2 separate regions of the Homo sapiens genome follow, and region 2 is linked to region 1. Evidence: fine-mapped expression QTL. A gene starts in region 1. The other region holds a variant in brackets. All regions are shown on one strand. Distances are from middle to middle.

What was found. PIP is the estimated chance that this variant, and not a neighbour inherited with it, causes the effect.
Region 2: its variant is the best candidate, but not a certain one, in a credible set for the expression of ZFP64 in whole blood (TOPMed, PIP 0.68).

Annotation. Positions count from the first base shown.
Region 1 is chr20:52,189,315-52,193,707 of GRCh38, reverse strand. ZFP64 (ZFP64 zinc finger protein) reads left to right here and starts at 1,929. Exons shown (of 6, transcript NM_018197.3): 1 at 1,929-2,117. The coding sequence starts at 2,072. RefSeq lists enhancers at 1,048-1,177, 2,218-3,074 and silencers at 1,588-1,857, 2,218-2,457.
Region 2 is chr20:52,134,677-52,139,069 of GRCh38, reverse strand. It overlaps a transcript of ZFP64 not described here. Among named protein-coding and RNA genes, the nearest start is that of ZFP64, 55 kb to the left of the region's middle. The variant G/A (reference allele first, on the strand shown) is at 2,048.

The DNA.
Region 1 (4,393 bases):
ACTTATGTAACAAACCTGCACGTTCTGCACATGTATCCCAGAACTTAAGGTTAAAAAAAAAAAAGGAAGTTTTATATATATTTTTTATATATATAAATATATAATATATAATATATAATATTTTATATATAATATATATTGTATATATTTATATATAATATATATATACATAAATATAAATATATATTAAATATATTAAATATTATATATTAAATATATATATATTTACAGTACTGATTTGATTATTTCATGTTGACTGCCTCCCTGGTCTACCTCCAGCAGCTAGCCCAGTGCCTGGCACTTCACAAACACTTGAGAATAAACAGCTGCTGCAGGCAGAAACCAAGCCTTAGAGGCAGCAGCAGGGAAAATCCCATTCATTATACAAGCCATATTTACTAAGCCTACTATGTGTCAGGCACCAGCCAAGTCACTGGACTACATCAGTGAAGCAAAGAGATTTTTTTAATCCCCATTTTTACAGGGACTTACTGAAAATAAGGGGGAGGAGAACACAGATAATATACAACTAAATTATATCTAAGCAGATATACTCGAGATACATAATATGTTCCATCTAACACCTTTTAAGGACAAAGCAGGCCAGGCATGGTGGCTTACACCTGTAACCCCAGCACTTTGGGAGGCTGATGGAGGATCGCTTGAGGCCAGGAATTCGAGACCAGCCTGGGCAACATCTCTACAAAAATAAAAATTAAAAAGTGAGCCAGGGTGGTGGCCCACGCCTGTAGGGGGGATTGCTTGAGCCCAGGAGTTGGAGGCTGCAATGAGCTAGGATCCGACCACTCTTCCAGCCTGAGAGACAGAGAAAGACCCCCTCTCTAAAAAAAGAAAGGGAGAAAGAGAGAGAGGCAGAGAGAGAGAAAGAAAGAAAAGAAAAGAAAAGAAAAGAAAAGAAAAGAAAAGAAAAGAAAAGAAAAGAAAAGAAAAGAAAAAGAAAAAGAAAAAAACAGGAAGGAGACAGGGAGTGGTTGGGGGAGGAGGAGGGGGCTGCAATATTAGAATGATTAGATTAGGCCAAGCATGGCCTCCCTGAGTGTGAATTTGAATGCTGACCTTCAGAAGCAGGACAGACTCTATGGGCAAATCCCTCGAGGCTGGGAGAGGTCTGAGGCTTGGGAGGGTCGGCAGAGAGACAATAGGGCTGACGCAGGAGCCCGGGGGAGACAGTAGTAGTAAGACATGAGGGACAGAGCAGAGAGGTCACTGTCCTCAGAGTGTGGACGCCGACCAACACTAGGGGCATCACCTGGGAACTTAGAAATGCTCGTTCTCACGCCTCGCCCCAGACCTACTGAAGCAGAAACGCTAGGGTGGGCCCAACAGCGTGTGTTCTAACAAGCCTTTCAGGCGACTGCGATGCACGATAAAGTTGGCAGCTCCTGGAGCAGGGGTCCCTCCGCGCTACGACCCCACCTCTTCGCGGTCCTCTCAGTCTCCCTAGCGGGGCAAGGGACCCGCCCAGCGCTTTGCTGATTTGCCCAGCGCTCACGCCCAACCTGGGTTTCTCCGGAGCTCGCCGCGCCCCGCGCACCCACCCCGCAACGGCAGCCGCACGTGGGTCTCCCCGCAAACCACCCAGGCGTCCCGGGAGCAGCGCTGCTGCACGGCCGCGCTGGGGGCCCAACGCCTGGGGTTGCAGGTGCAAAAGGCGCCCCGAGCCGGGGAGGCCAATCGCGTCCGCGGAGAACGCAGAGTGCGGGCAGGGGCGCATCCCTCGCCACCCGCGGTCGCCCAGCACGCCGGGACGCGCGTGGCCATCCAGCTCCCCGGGGGCGTTGGGGGGCTCCGCGGGCCTGGGCCTCGGGATTCGCCCGCCGCTTCCCCGGGGAGCCGCTGCTGCAAAGCCAGGTTGGGGCGCCGGGCCCGGCCAGCGCCCTCTAGGCAGCGGAAGTGCAGCTTGCTTTACATCCGTCCTCCCCGCCTCGCAGAGTTGGGAGAAGGCAGGGTGGGGGGTGTGGAAAAATAAAAGGAAAAGTCCTTGCACCATGTAGATCAGCGTCCCCCACTTTGGCATCCCGGCCGGCCGGGGACCTCCCAGTCTGCGGCCATGAACGCGAGCAGCGAGGGCGAGAGCTTCGCGGGCTCGGTGCAAAGTAAGTGCTTTTCCGGGAGCAGTGCGCGCTCCGGGGCCCAGTGCGCGCTCCGGGGCCCGGGCCCAAGCACGTCTGCGACGCAGCCAGCAGGCCCGGGGCCCCGAAATCGGGGTGACGGCTCGGAGCCGCGTCTCGGGGACCGCGGCGGGCGCGCTGTGCAGGGGGCGCCGGAGTGGGCTTGGGGTGGGGGCGCACCCGACCTGGCGCAAGACCGGGGGCGCTCTCCAGCCTTGCGAGACCCCTTGGAAGGGAACAGTGGGGGAGGGCACGCCGTTCAGACAATCGCCACCCCCTAAGGGCATTCCCGCCCCATCAGGCGGAGTTTGGGGCGGGCAGGAGAAAGGGAGGAATCTAGGGTAAACGGGGCAACACTGATGGGAAAACTTCTGCCTCAGTGGCTCAAAATTAGAGCCTGGAGATTGGGGGAATCACCAGGTCTCACGAGGTCCTGCCGGCTCATTGCAAAGCCTTTTCCTCATTAAGGGTGGAGATCTGAATGGAAAACGGGGCCGTGGTCGCTTTATTTGGGTTTGGGGTTCAGTTTTTATTTAACCGAGGAGGACATCAGCGTTTTTCAAGTCCCTGGTTTCTCCCGGTGCATTGTTTCCCAAAGTGTGGTCCAGAGACTGAGTGCAACCAGCCACCTGGGAGCGAGAGCGTGTATTTTAAAACAGCTTTCTGGGCCCCACCCATTCAATCTCGGGGGTGGGGCTGGGGATCCGCTGTCCTTCGTAGCTGCCTGGGCAACTCTGAAGCACATGAAGTTTGAGAACCCATCTACCAGGGGTTTGCAGAAAATCTGGCACATAGTAAGCTCCCAGCTTGTTAGCTGCTACTGTTAACAGTTTGGGAGACACTGGGTCCCAAACTTGGCGGTGTATTCCTTGCATTACTGTGAAAAGCACAGATTTTCCTAAACACCATCCTCCCCACCCCACCCTGTTATGACTCAGTATCTCCTAGGTGGGGCTCAGATATGTCCATGTTTAAATAGTGTACCTCAGTAAGAACCCAGCAGGTAACATGCTGGGGGACTGGCGGGGAGGGGGGACTGTGCTGGTACGAGCACCATCCCATTTAATTCTCATAACAAGCCCGTGTTTTTTCTTGGAGAAATTAAAAACAAACAAAAACCATGGATTAGAAACCTCTCCTCCCATTTTTCAGATGAGAAAACCCACGCTTAAAGTCACTGTTGTTAAGCGACAGTGTCAAGATTCTAACGAAGGTCTATGTCGTTACTTTTGCACTTTCCACATACCAGTGACATTATCTGTTATGAAAATCCTTTCATTCTGGGTGTCAGTCCTATTCCATCATTAAGGAATCGTCAGCAATGCAAGCTACTTCATGTCTCACTTCCTTGTTTCCTTGTTAGTTCCATGGGTATCTCAGTATCTGCCAGAGAAGAAAAGGTTTCCTTCCTTCCATCCATTGATTGCAAAGTGCTTAAGTGTATCCCTGCAAGATGGCTTATCACAGTGCTCAGCCCAGTCTCCTTAGCAAGTCAACCAAACTGTATTTCTGAACAGAGATTTCTTGTCTTAGCTAGACCTGGGGAAAATTGGACATAATGTAAATATCTTACAAATTTTCAGAAAATTATGAGGCATAATTTTATCTAACCATATATGCACAAAGGTAGTCTTGTATCATTTAACTTGGGAAAAATTGGAAATTATGTAAATACCTTATTGTTGCTGAGAAGATTATGACGCATGGACACCATGGAATAATGTATTGCCATTAAATAATCATATATATATGAAGAGATTTTAATGATATAGCACAATGTTTATGCAATGTTTAGGAAAAAGGGCCAGGCACGGTGGCTCACGCCTGTAATCCTAGCACTTTGGGAGGCTGAGGCGGGCGGATCACATGAGGTCGGGAGTTCAAGACCAGCCTGACCAACATGAAGAAACCCCATTTCTACTAAAAATTCAAAATTAGCCTGGCGTGGTGGTGGCGCTTGTAATCCCAGATACTCCGGAGGCTGAGGCAGGAGAATCGCTTGAACCTAGGAGGCGGAGGTTGCAGTGAGCTGAGATCGTGCCCTTGCACTCCAGCCTGGGCAACAAGAGCAAAACTCCATCTCAAAAAAAAAAAGGAAAAAAATTAGGAAAAGGATTAGTTTTACAATACTATGATCTGAATATTTACAATATTATGATCTTATGCAATTTTTTTTTTTTTTGAGATGAAGTCTCGCTGTCACCAGGCTGGAAGTTCAGTGGCATGATCTTGGCTCACTGCAACCTCCACGTCCCAGGTTC
Region 2 (4,393 bases), 55 kb after region 1:
ATGTTTCCTTTTCTCCTCGACCTTGTGAATATCTTTAGTTTTCTGACTTTTTCATGGTAGCCACTCTGACTAGTGTGAGATGCTATCTCACTGTGGTTTTGATTTATATTTCTCTCATGATTAGGATGTTGAGCATTTTTTCATATGCTTGTTGGCTGCTTGTATGTCTTCTTATAATTTAATAGTTTTCTGTATGGCCATTTACATGACCAATTTTTGTACGTATTTGGTGACTATTAGAGAAGAATACACAGTCTCTGTAGAGTTTAAATTTTTATGAATTATTCAATTCTTCTAATCCTTTCTTAGTTTGTATCTATTTGGTAAACTCTGAAAGAAATATTTAAAAAATCTCTCTCGAGGATTGCATTTTTAAAACTAAGCTTTCCTTATATTACCAGGGTGCTTTTTTTTTTATTATATTTTGCCATATGTTGTTTGATGCATATAAAGTTTGTAGCTGTTCTACGTTCTTTGTCATTTTTTCCTTTTTTTCTCATGTACCTGTTCCTTCTATGTAATAATAGCTTTTGGCCTTAAATCATGCTTTATCTCATAATAACATTCTAAGTCTTATTTTGTATTTTTTTTTCATTTGCCTGGTTCATATCTGCCCATTCTGTTATTCAGTATCTTTCTTTATCAGCCTCTCCTTGTCTTTGATAGGACAATTCAAATCATTTGTATTTATTACAGTAATATATATGTGCTATTATTCACTTCCATCTTATTTAATATTTGCTATTTATTAAAGTTTGTGGTTTTCTCCTTTTTCCTTTTTAACTTTATTTCCTATCTCTAGAAAGTTATATATTCATCTCCATCCTGCTGACAGTTACATTCCAATTTTTTGTGTGTTGTTTTTTTGAGATAGGGTCTCTGTCTCCCAGGCTAAAGTGCAGTGGAGTGATCTTGGCTCACTGCAGCCTTTACCTCCCCAGCCCAAGTGATCCTCCCACCTCAGCCTCCCAAGTAGTTGGGACTCCAGATGTGTGCCTCCATGCCTGGCTTGCTTATTTATTTATTTATTTATTTATTTATTTATTTATTTATTTTTGTAAAGATGGGGTTTTTCCGTGTTTCCCAGGCTGGTCTCGAACTCCTGGGCTCAAGCAATCTGCTCGCTTTTGCCTCCCAGAGTGCTGGGATTAGAGGCATGAGCCAGTGCACCGGGCCTGCTTTCCAATATTTAACAATGATTGTTAAATATATATTTGCCTACTGCTGTGTAAAAAGTAAACATTAACCGTGCCTCAATCTTCCATTAAGAAATTCTTCCCTGATGAGAGGAAGCTTTTGGACTTCATCTTCTACAGCCGCCATCCTCAAATTCTGAGTTTTGCTGAGATGACTTATAAGTTTATTTCTAGGCCTTTGTTAAGTTTTGCCCTATGGTATGTCTCTTACATTCAAATTCCCAATTGACCATCTCCATTTAGATTTAACCAAAAATTACTGCATTCATTGTTCACCATAGTTTCTTACACCCTTCAGCTTCCCTATGTTGCGCTTTTACTCTGATTTCATTTTCATTTGGTTGGAGTACTTCCTGGAGCATATTCCTCAGAAGGGCACATAGGTGGGACTTCTTTTGTCCTGGCAGATGAATTATACCCTTGGACATAAGATCTTTTTTTCTTCAGTAGTCGTTAAACTCTGTTCTGGTGGAGATGAAAAGTTGGATCCCAATCTGATCCACTTCTTAGATGCCCTAGGTCCTGTAGCCCAGCAAAGTTGAGACAAAATGATGGTGTTACCAGGAAAAAAAGCAAGGCAGTGGCTCATTCTAGCCAGTCAGGTGGAGAGAACCCATCTCTGAAACTTCTCAGATAGAGAGCAGGGCTTCAAAATAGGAAATATTATTAATCTTAAAAATTATTATTTATTTCATCATACTTCTCAGCAACAAAATTATGGCTATATAAATTGAAATTCACATCTTTTATTTTCTATGATCACAGGGCTCCAAGCTTTAGACATTTCTTCAATATCAAATTACCATTAGGGCCAGGCACGGTGGCTCACACCTGTAATCCCAGCATTTTGG[G/A]AGGCCAAGGTGGGTGGATCACCTGAGGTCAGGAGTTTGAGACCAGCCTGGCCAACATGGCAAAACCCCATCTCTGCTAAAAATACAAAAATTAGCTGGGTGTGGTGGTGGATGCCTGTAGTCCCGGCTATTCAGGAGGCTGAGGCAGGAGAATCACTTGCCCGGGAGGCAGAGGTTGCAGTGAGCCGAGATCACGCCACTATACTCCAGCCTGGGAGACAGAGTGAGACTCCATCTCAAAAAAACAAGATAATTAGGAACTTTTGACCAAAGCAACATATATATATTATATAATTTGAAAAACAGTTATTAAATATAAGCAAGGTACTGGTGTTTTTCTATTTTAATGAGGTAGATAGGCCTGGTTTTTAGTTAGCTTATATATTCTTTATGATTATGAATTTTTAAAAAACCATTTTTCAGCAGTTGCTAGAATGAGATACAGTTTATTTTCAGTTATGTGTCAAATTCTTTTTTATTGATGTAAACTCTGAGTTTTATTCACATAAATAAGAATATAGAAATACAAGTTGTATTGTTATAGCAATATTTCTCAATTATTTTAATTTTTTCTGAATTCTATGCCAGAAAATCACATATTGATCAGTTGTCATTAATTGGGTCAATTTTATTAAAAACAAAGAACTGAAAACAACCTGGGGTTTCTTTCCCAATTATGGAATCACTTGCCTTCTCAACATTGATGCTGTGATATCTCAGATTTTATGGCTCCATGCATTGGTTCAGTATGGTTTATTAATAATGGGTCACTTTCTCTGCGCGTTCTTAGGTGATCAGTTTTAGGAAAAGGTATGCCTAGAAGTTAAGGATCTGAGAATTGATGTCCTTAATCATGCCTGTTTGTTGTTGTTGTTGTTGTTGTTCTTTTTTTTGGTTTTTTCTTTTTTTTTTTTTTTTTTTTTTTTGAGAGAGTCTCCCTCCATCGCCTAGGCTGGAGTGCAGTGGTGTGATTTCGGCTCACTGCAACCTCCACCTCCCTGATTCAAGCAATTCTCCTGCCTCAGTCTCCTGAGTAGCTGGGACTACAGGTACACACCACTATGCCCAGCTAATTTTTGTATTTTTAGTCAAGGCAGGGTTTCACCATGTTGGCCAGGCTGGTCTCGAACTCCTGACCTCAAATGATCCACCCACCTCGGCCTCCCAAAGTGCTGGCATTACAGGCGTGAGCCACCGAACCCAGCCAATCATGCCTGTATATACTGAAAATCTTGGCAGGGCGCAGTGGCTCATGCCTGTAATTCCAGCACTCTGGGAGGCTGAGGCAGGAGGATCACTTAAGCCCAGTAGTTTGAGACCAGCCTGGGCAACATGTCGAAACCCTGCCTCTACAAAAATTACCAAAAAATTAGCTGGGCTTGATGACACATGCCTGTAGTACTGGCTTCTTGGGAGGCTGAGGTGGGAAGATCACTTGAGCCCAGGACGTCAATGCTGCAGTGAGCCGTAAGCCATGATCACACCACTGCACTCCAGACTGAGCAACAGAGCGAGACCCTGTCTCAAAGAAAAGAAAAGCATCTTTGTGTATTTCCATAGTACAAAACTCCCAATTTGCAGACCTTTTGCCATAGAGCAGGAATCAGCAGTGTTTTTTCTGTAAAGCTCCAGATAGTAAATGTTTTCAGCTTTGTGGGCCATATCTTCTCTGTTCCAACTATTCAGCCCCACTGGGGTAGCAGGGAAATAGCCACAGTCAATATTCAGGGCAGTGGGCGTGGCTGTGCTTCGATAAAATTCCATTCATAGGCATTGAGATTTCAGTTTCATAAAATTTTCACCTCACAAAATTTAATTTTCTTTTGATTTTTGTTAACCAGTTAAAAATGTGAAAACCAGACCAGTCACAGTGGCTCACACCTGTAATCCCAGCACTATGGGAGGCCGAAGCAGACAGATCACTTGAGGTCAGGAGTTCGAGACCAGCCTGGGCAACATGGTGAAACCCTGTCTCTAGCAAACACACAAAAAAGTAGCCAGGTGCAGTGGCGTGCACCTTTGGTCCCAGTTACTTGGGAGGCTGAGGTGGGAGGATCGCTTGAGCCCAGGAGGCAGAGGTTGCAGTGAGCCGAGATTGTGCCACTGCCCTCCAACCTGGGTGACAGAGTGAGACCCCATTTCAAAAAAATATAAAAATAACAATAAAAATGTGAAAACCATTCCTAGCTCACAGACCATACAAAAAAAAGTGGTCCGTAAGTTCAAATTAGATTGAATTTGTATTTTATGGCTTCTCTTTATGTTGGAATGGAGAATTCTGTTTAAAAATTAGACCTTCTGTAGGATTTTTTACTGTTGTTATTGTTGTTGTTGTTATCGGCATGT